Regions from separate parts of the Homo sapiens genome. Here region 1 is linked to region 2. Evidence: fine-mapped expression QTL. A gene starts in region 2. The other region holds a variant in brackets. All regions are shown on one strand. Distances are between the middles of the regions.

Evidence for each region. PIP is the estimated chance that this variant, and not a neighbour inherited with it, causes the effect.
Region 1: its variant is the best candidate, but not a certain one, in a credible set for the expression of GIRGL in tibial nerve (GTEx, PIP 0.82).

Annotation. Positions count from the first base shown.
Region 1 is chr7:20,130,431-20,134,833 of GRCh38, forward strand. The region is part of intron 1 of MACC1-OT1 (MACC1 3' UTR overlapping transcript 1); the gene reads right to left. It overlaps MACC1 (MET transcriptional regulator MACC1), which reads right to left. Exons shown (of 7, transcript NM_182762.4): 7 at 4,225-4,403. Among named protein-coding and RNA genes, the nearest start is that of MACC1-OT1, 7.8 kb to the right of the region's middle. The variant G/C (reference allele first, on the strand shown) is at 2,176.
Region 2 is chr7:20,215,588-20,219,990 of GRCh38, forward strand. GIRGL (glutamine insufficiency regulator of glutaminase lncRNA) reads left to right here and starts at 1,990. Exons shown (of 4, transcript NR_134569.1): 1 at 1,990-2,035; 2 at 2,669-2,776; 3 at 3,996-4,169. MACC1 (MET transcriptional regulator MACC1) reads right to left here and starts at 1,797. Exons shown (of 7, transcript NM_182762.4): 1 at 1,712-1,797. RefSeq lists enhancers at 1,622-2,821, 4,241-4,390, 4,307-4,403, 4,401-4,403.

The DNA of each region.
Region 1 (4,403 bases), 85 kb before region 2:
TTTATTTACGAGTTCGACCTACGATTTTTTTGACTTCACAGTGGTGGGAAAGCAATACTCATTCATTAGAAGCCAGACTTTGAGTAAGTACCCATACAACCATTCTGTTTTTCACTTTCGGTATAGTATTCAATAAATTATCTGAGCTATTCAACACTTTATTATAAAATAGGCTTTGTGTTAGATGATTTTGCTCAACTGTAGGCTAATATAAGTGTTTTGAGCACTCTTAAGGTAGGCTAGGCTAAGCTACGATGTTCTGTAGGTTAGGAGTATTAAATAAGCTTATTTTTTATTTATTTGTTTTGTTTGTTATTGTTTCTAGAGATGAAGTCTTGTTATGTTGCCCAGGCTGGGCTGGAACTTGTATTACCTACACCAATGTTGTTTACCATTAGTTCCCATAAGCAGAGTTTGACTCTTTATCATGCCTGAATTAAAAGAACAATGGCAGTTCCAGCTGCGTAGTTCTATCATCTTACTGTATTTCAGATCAATCCGTGGCTTTGGAATGTCCCTCATTTCTCAGGCATTGAGGATTTTCTGGTGATAGAGAAATAAGGGGGCAGAAATTTTAAAAGGCTCATTGCAGGATTGTTTAACATGCATTTGAACGAAGTAGTTGGTTTTAGTAACAAAAAAAACCTGACTAAATAATTTTTATTATGGGCTGAATTGTACCCTCCCTCAAGTTCACGTTGAAGTGCTAACCCCTGGTACCTAAGAATGTAACCATATTTAGAGGTAGTGTCTTTCAAGAGGTAACTTAAATGAGGTCACTAGGTGGGCGCTAATCCAGTATGACTGGTGTCCTAAAGAGAAAAGGACATGACACATTGACACACTCATAAAAGGAAGAGCATGTAAAGATACAGGGAGAAGACGGCCATCTTTAAACTAAAGAGAGAGGCCAGAAATATATTCTTCCCCACGGCCCTCAGAAAAATCCAACCCTGCCAAAACCTTGATTTTATTTCTAGCCTCCAGGATTGTAAGAAACATTTCTGTTTTCTAAGTCACTCAGTATCCCCCTTATCTGCAGGGGATACATTCCAAGACCCAAGGTTGATGCCTGAAACCACTGATGGTGCCAAACCCTGTGTAAATTTTTCCTACACATACATTCCTATGATAAAGCTTTAAGAAATCAACAATAATAAAATCAAACAAATATAACAATATACTGTAAAAAAAAAGTTACGTGAACATGATCTTTCTCTCAAAATATCTTATTGCATTGTACTCACCCTTCTTGTGACAATGTGAGATGATACAATGCCTACATGATGAGATGAAGTGAGGCGGATGAGGTAGGCATTGTGATGTAAATGGAAAATTCCAGAAATAAACAATTCATAAATTTTAAAATTGCATGGCATCCTGAATAGTGTGATGAAGTCTCACTCTTTCCTTTTCCGTCATCACTTAGTACCTATCTTGGTTATCAGATTGACTGTCACTGTTTCCTTGTGCTTGTGTTCAAGGAACATTTTTTTACTTAATATTGGCCCCAACGTACAAGAGTAGTGATGTAATATTTTCAGAACGGGGATGGCCACAGGTAACTGAACCCATGGAAAGTGAAACCACAGATAATGGGGGACTACAGTAATGCAGTTTTTTACTAGATAAACACAGAATATACTAAGTGGTCAAAACAGAGCTCTCATTAAAGATGGATTTAAAACTTTGCTCGAGACAGGAACCCAGGGTGGGTGGATTAATTACATGCAGTGGGTTTGCACCTGTTTCACTGGAACCTGGACTCTTATTCCTAAGCATACAGTAACTTCTCAGCAATCAAAATAGAAAGAAATATAGAGCTTTTCTAACAGCGTGAAAGGATATTTGATTTTCCTTTTTCTTCTAAACTATCAGTGAAATCACTTGAAAATAGATTTAGGAATGTAATATCAAGTACTTACTTATCTTCCTCTTTTAAATAACCTTGATCACTAATCTCTTATTTTGCCACAACCCACACCGTTCCATTCAACCTTGAAAAACCTAATATCCAATTTCATCCCAAAGAGCATTTCTCTATGTACAGCAAATTATGAATATAGTTGAACAAACATTAAACAGGAACTATATATTAAGGAAAAAATGATCATGGGCTCCTAAAAATAAAAAGACAGGATTAATTCTATGACATGTTGACTATATCTTAATAAA[G/C]CTGTTAGGTATTTTAAAAAAGAACAAACACACCACCATTGTTGGTGGTATCCCTTTACATTTTGCCCTATTTTTTGATGATGTCTTGGAATCATGTAATTCCCTTCAATTGCTGTTGCTGTTCTACTTTCCCCTTGGGCAACATTTTGGGGTTATTACTCAGACAAAAGAAGAGATAAAGATCTCCAGTGAAAAGTCAGATGGCTGAGAAAGGTGAAATACCACTGAGCTTGGACCCCGCTTTCCTAGTTTCATTCAGGAAATGTTTGAAGGAATTTGCCATGGTTGTTTTTCACCAGCAGGTCATGACACTCGATTCTAACCTTACAATTTTCACAATCAAGCATTCTGGGAACTCCTTCTCTGTCCCTCTCTTCCCCTCAGCTTCTTTCTAGCAGTAGGTGAAGTGCATCTACTACATTATAGGTCCTGCTTGAGAGTAATTGAAGTCACAGGAGATCTGCCTCTGGTCCTCTTAGGCCAGGTGCCCCTGTGGCCTTGATGGGGTTGTAGGTGGTTTTGTCATGTCATCAGCAATTCGTAAAGTGGTATGTAGAGAGCAGATATTGCCAGTGAAGTTCCATTTACTTATCATTTGATTTATTGCAGAAGTTTATAGAAAAGCAGGCCCATTGCCAGTCTCATACTAAGGACTCAGAAAACTAGCTTCTTGAATTGCACTTGAGGGAGAAAGATTTCCTGAGGCAGCAAATAGTGCTGAGGCTAAGTGATCCTCTCGCCTCAGCTTCCTGAGTAGCTAGGACCACGGATGTGCACCACCATGCTCAACAATTTTTTTTTAATTGTATTTTTTGTAGAGATGGGGTTTTGCTGTTGCCCAGGCTGGTCCCAAACTTCTGGCCTCAAGCGATCCTCCTACCTTGGCCTCCCAAGTGCTAGGAATACAGGCATGAGCCACAGTGTTTGGCCTGGTCTTTTTACAAATGGAAAACACAGTATCTTTCCTTCTTTCTCTTTACCTGATCTATAAAAAGATACAAATTAACTGTTGTTTGCTTATCTCCTGGATGGATTTAATGCTATCTAAGACTGTTTTGTAAAACACCAAAGAAACTTCAGCTAGAGCAAACGCAGCAGCCCTACATCAAAATTGTCATTTATCGGTCTTTCGAGAGCTGGTGTCAGAAAACCTATTTTAAACTGGATTAGGCACAAAGAATTTGTCTCTCACAACTAAAAACTCCAGGAGGCAGTTTCAGGCATTCCAGTATCCAAGGCTTGAAGAGTGTGATCAAACTTGTGTTTTGTTCTTGTTTTGTTAGTTCCCCTACCTATATTTGATTATATTAGTTTCATCCCTGGGCTCCACAAAGCTGCCCAGCAGCTCTGGGCTTTCCCTTTATGGTAACAACATGGCTGCAGCAGCTCCATCCTCACCTCTCCTCATGTTCCAGTTTCAAGGTGACATGGCCTTGTAATTTCCCCTGGGCTAAACTAAATAGTGTTTCCCAGGGCTTTCTTCACTGAGTGTCTCTGAGTGTTGCTGATTAGAGTTGACCACAGAGAAATCTATGTAAGATTTGTAAGGTCACATTGGAGCAGGAGCACTGTTACTCTTGGAAGGTGGAGGTAGGTCAGGCGATCATTGCACCACTGCACTCCAGCTTGGGTGAGACAAGGAGACCTTGTCTAAAAAATAAAATAAAATAAAATAAAAATAAAAATAAAAATAAAAATTCCAACACAAAGAGAGGAAGACAAAGTTTCCATTGTCATGAATAGGCAGCCTTCTTTCTTTACACCGTAATTGAACCCTTCCCTAGCTCCACTTCACCCCTTTCTTGATTTTTCGTCATGATATAAAACGTCTGAGTGAGCATTGAGTATGTATTTCCTGGGAGTAAACCCAGAGAATGGGTTTTTCTACTCTGATAAGAAAGGGCGCAGTAGCTGGTTCTATTAGGTCATTTAATCTAATATGTGTAAGATCAGCATTACATCAGACTTGCCAATTCCAGATTCTGCTTTAAAGAGTGAGTTTGGTAGAACCAGTTTAGGTAAAAACAATAACTTAATCATAACTAAAGATTTGATTTTTCAATGACTCACTCTATTTTCATGAACAAGTTAAATGCCCCAGTAAATTCCATGTATTGAGTTTAAGTGAGCATATAAACATTAGGGACATTTAAAATCTACTTCCAGTCACAAAAGGGCAGAGTCTTGATATCTTTAAGAACAGAGAAAAGGAAGCCATAGATTCTTCC
Region 2 (4,403 bases):
CTCTGCACAGTCATCTGAAATGCTGGTTGTTATCACCTTCACTTATCACCAAATGCCATAAGGGATGTTTAGTCTTAATAGACACCTAGGCATATGTGTGGTCTTTCAAGAAAGAATTCTCTAAAAATTCAACAGACATGTCTTCAAGTTCAAAATTAGTATAATTCCAAAATGTCTTTTGTCCTCCAAATCAGCCAATACATTTTAAGATAAGATGGTGTTTAACAAACTTTGCCTTAATAGTTTTTATTATCTCTAAAACACAAACAGATAAAAATATTCTATTTGTAAATTAGCTACAAGGAAGTTGAGAAAACTGGAATAAATAATATTTTTGCTTTAAGTTTTAAAAATGAGTCATAACTAAAGCTTTTAAGCAAATTGTAACTAATAATTATGACTTCATAATTTCTAGATTCTGTACACTACCCATGAAATCATATTAAAAATCGCTATTATGAATAAAAGATAATCATGTAATTAAGTTCAGGGGGGCATAAAAGAATCACCACTGAGGTTAAGACAACTTTAAGAATATACCTGAAATTCATCATTATCACCCAGTAATTGCTATGTAAAAACCAGACATTAACATAGATAAGTCAATATCAATCCTAAATTAGACCCACTGAATATAGACTTAAGACATTTTTAGGAAATTAGGAAGACCTTTAATAAATGGAAGGCATTGGAATTTTCACTACATGCTTTTTGATCTTAAAAATAAATTTTTTAAAATCTATCTTTATTAATTGTGGTAAAAAACTTAACATACAATTTACCATCCTAACCATTTGTAAGTGTTTACACTTACAAATTTTAAGTTCAATAGTATTAAATATATTTACATTATTGTACAGTCTCCAAGTGTTTTCATCTTGTAAACTGAAACTCTATATCCATTAAACAACTCTCATTTCTCCTTCCCCCAAGCCCCTGGCAACTACCATTCTAAGTATCATTTATGTGAGTTTGACTACTCCAGATACCTCAGGTAAGTTGAATCATCCAGTATTTGTCTTTTTGTTTCTTTGGTGTGTTTTCCAAGCTTAATTGAAACTTAATTAGGATGAAGCCAAGTTACCCTCCATCATGTATCATCTGTCTATTCAGTACAATGCACTGTGCTAATTTAATGACCCCCTTAACTTAATTACATGATTATCTTTTATTCATAATTTAATGCTATTAACCTAATGAGGTAGGTTATGCACACACACTTTACAGATGAGGAAACTGAGACTTTGCGAGGTGAAACATCTTGTCAATGGTCATAAATCTAATAAGCAGTGGGGCTGCTGATTGCAACTTTATCTATCTTCAAAGCACAGTCTTTTTAACATACCTGTATGCTTTTTGAGATATTTAAAGTTTTTAGGGGATTTCAGCCATCTACATATTTTAAGCAACTCATAGAGTGTTTTGTTTTTGCCTTTGATGGTTAATGTGACCTGGGTTCCTCCTTTTTTTTAAAATAAACTACTTTATTCTAAACCATGTCTCAAGGTATTATTCTATTCTATGTCATGAGGTTTATTCTAACACATGTCCCATAAGCCCACAGAATACCAGTTACCTTCCCTTTATTTAAGCAGGGCTTGATTTGTTAAGCAGCTGGTTTGTTACATTTTTCTGGAAATTATACAACTTCCTAGTGTGTAGCACATATCAATAGTGAAAGGAATATTATTTTTAAAAAATCAGCACTTACATTTGTGGAAGTGAGCCCAAGCTTCTTCAGTTCAGACACATGGTTTTAGTGAATAGAAGTCACTCTACCAAACCCGGGTACTCTTCAAACATGCCTTGCTCCGTATGCAGGCAGGCAACTGCACCCCTGCTTCCTGAGCCACCTGGGACTTGAAGTTCTACCACTGTGGCTCCAAAGCTGCCCAACTAGAAACCCCAAAAGGCAAGAGAACTACGATACCCACAATTCAGGCTCCTCACCCGAAACCAGAAGAGGGCGTATGGCTAGAGTTTCACCCTAAGAAGAAAGGGGAAGCAGGTGGAAAAGCAATTAAAAAAAAATCAGGTGAGTATATCTAAGAACCATCTGTAAATATAATCTTATTTCCATGAAAGGAAATAAAAGTGGTTTAATGTTTGCCAGGGAGTAAGAAGGCACCCTCAGTGTTAGCAATAAGTAAAAAATATTTATGCAAGCAAATCCTCATGCAGCTGGAACTTGCCCCACCAGATTCTCTTTCGGTGATTCAGAGCTGAAGGTGCCTCACTGCCCTGTGGAACAGGTGAATAAAGCCTTCCCAGGTGAGTGACAGTGTCTAACTAGTTCCCCCTTTCCCTCTACATCAGCACTGTGATTGTCACTCAAAGACATAGACATATAGACATAATGGAGACCTTTTGGCATTTCATCTTCTAAAATGCTCTGGATTTTTAAGATAACACTTTAAAATGTGCCTTTTAAAATATAAGCAAGAATAAAGTTTTCTTGATATTTTCTTCCATTTTACTTTCCATTTCTGTGTTTTGTGTTTTCCTTCTGTGTATTTTGTTCAAAATTCAAGAAAGAGAAAATTAGGGGAAAGGGGAAAAAAGGTAAAACTTAGTGAAATGAAATGTGCAATAATTGTTTCACATTTTTTTCCAACATCAGCAACAGAGAATGTTTAAAACAAATGTGTTTCTCTATTTGTTCATACAGCATCTCTCTCTAGCCTATTATCTCCTGTTAGACACAGCCCAGAAAATGAATAGAGACAAGTCCTGGCTGGGTCTGGGTTCAGAAACATAATAGAAGGATTCATCTAATGTAAGTAGATGGCAGAATGGTGACAAAGAAAAAGTTTCCTTTCCCTTTTCTGCACTTTCTCTCCTACTGTTCTAACCACCCCTTCCTCCCTGATGCATCCCTGGCTTCATGCTGCCAGATCACCTAATCCACCCAGATTCCCTTTGAAGTTTCCCCTTGACTCATCCCACAATCCAAACTGAGCTGTTCTGTTTCTTTTTGTCACAGGTTCCTCAACTCTCTACTAGAACCTAGCTTTCCTTTATGTCATTATATTATTTCCAAAACAAATGGTTCTTAATTTCCCCAAACCCTACAGAGGGCATTCTGCATGGCATTTCTCCTCCCTGAAACCATTTTTGCTCATCTTGAAATGTTCAGAGATTTCATTTTTTCCAAAGCTCAATGAAAAACACTCTTCAAGATGTCCTTCTCAGTTTGTCTTAATCTGAGTTATTCTCTTCCTCCTAATCAATTTCATAATATTGCATCTGCTCCTCTCATAACACATTGTATATCTCATTTCATTGGTTTACATGGGTGTGTGTGTACCTATGCAGTCTTACATTCCTATTTGAAGGCAAGGCCTCATTGTATCCCTACTTCATTAACTCATTAATGTACAAGTAGATGTTTGTGATAAACAATCAACACATAAAATAACTGAGATGTTAACTCTAAGGTGTGTGTGTGTTAATGCCTAATGCCATCTTTATGTCTCCCGGAAAACATTTACATTTAAAAAGCTACCTAAATGCCATGCATGAGTACTGTTATCAGAATCCCCCTGCAGTCTGGTCTGGTGTGGCTCCCACAGCCTTTATTTGCAGAAAGGCAAAGCATTAAATCTAGCAATTGAACCCTTGACAGTACCCGAAATGAAAGCCCTAGTGGGTCAGCACTCACTGTTTACCAGCTCCAATCCCTGCTGTGCACTTGCCTTTCTAACAGCTCCCCAAGGACTGGGCTCCCTAGAGTCCTCAGTCCCATGGTCCTGGAAACCTGGCCCTACCTCTATCTATGATTTTTGATTATCAGCTCCAGCATTTATGGATCCCTTCTCCTATTATCTAATCTACGGGCTCTAAAGATTAAACTGTGCACTTTGGACTATTTAAATAGTTCTTAACCACTGATCTCCTCCCTCAGGGAAGGGAATTCTTTCCACAGTTGCTAGTTCCTCACACCTCTGCCTCTATGGGATTCTCCTGGTCCCCACATGCTCTGCTGTGTCTTCTAGCTGTCGGCCACTGTGGAGGAAGTGAACCTTCTAGATCCTGCTGACTCATACAATGAGTTTTGTGTGGACCATCAGACAAAAGGGCTGGCTGGTGAAGGTGGCTGTTGTCTGGAAATTCCTCCCAGCTCTCCTCTAATTATGTCATAAGGACTGGAGGCCCCTTAGCCTGCTTGTGTGAGTATCACCAGCTATGTAAAGTTGGGGCCTTAGCTCATCCTCAGCACATGGCTCAGGATCACTTCCTTAAGAAAGTCTCTTCTGACCTCCTTACCCCTACCATGTTTCTTGTACTGACTTACGCAATGGTCACAACCAACATAGAAGCTGAAATCCCAATGACTCACTGTCCCAGCTGCGCTTGTAGATAAGGGAGAGGCAAAGCACTTAGAATGGCAATCAGACATGGCT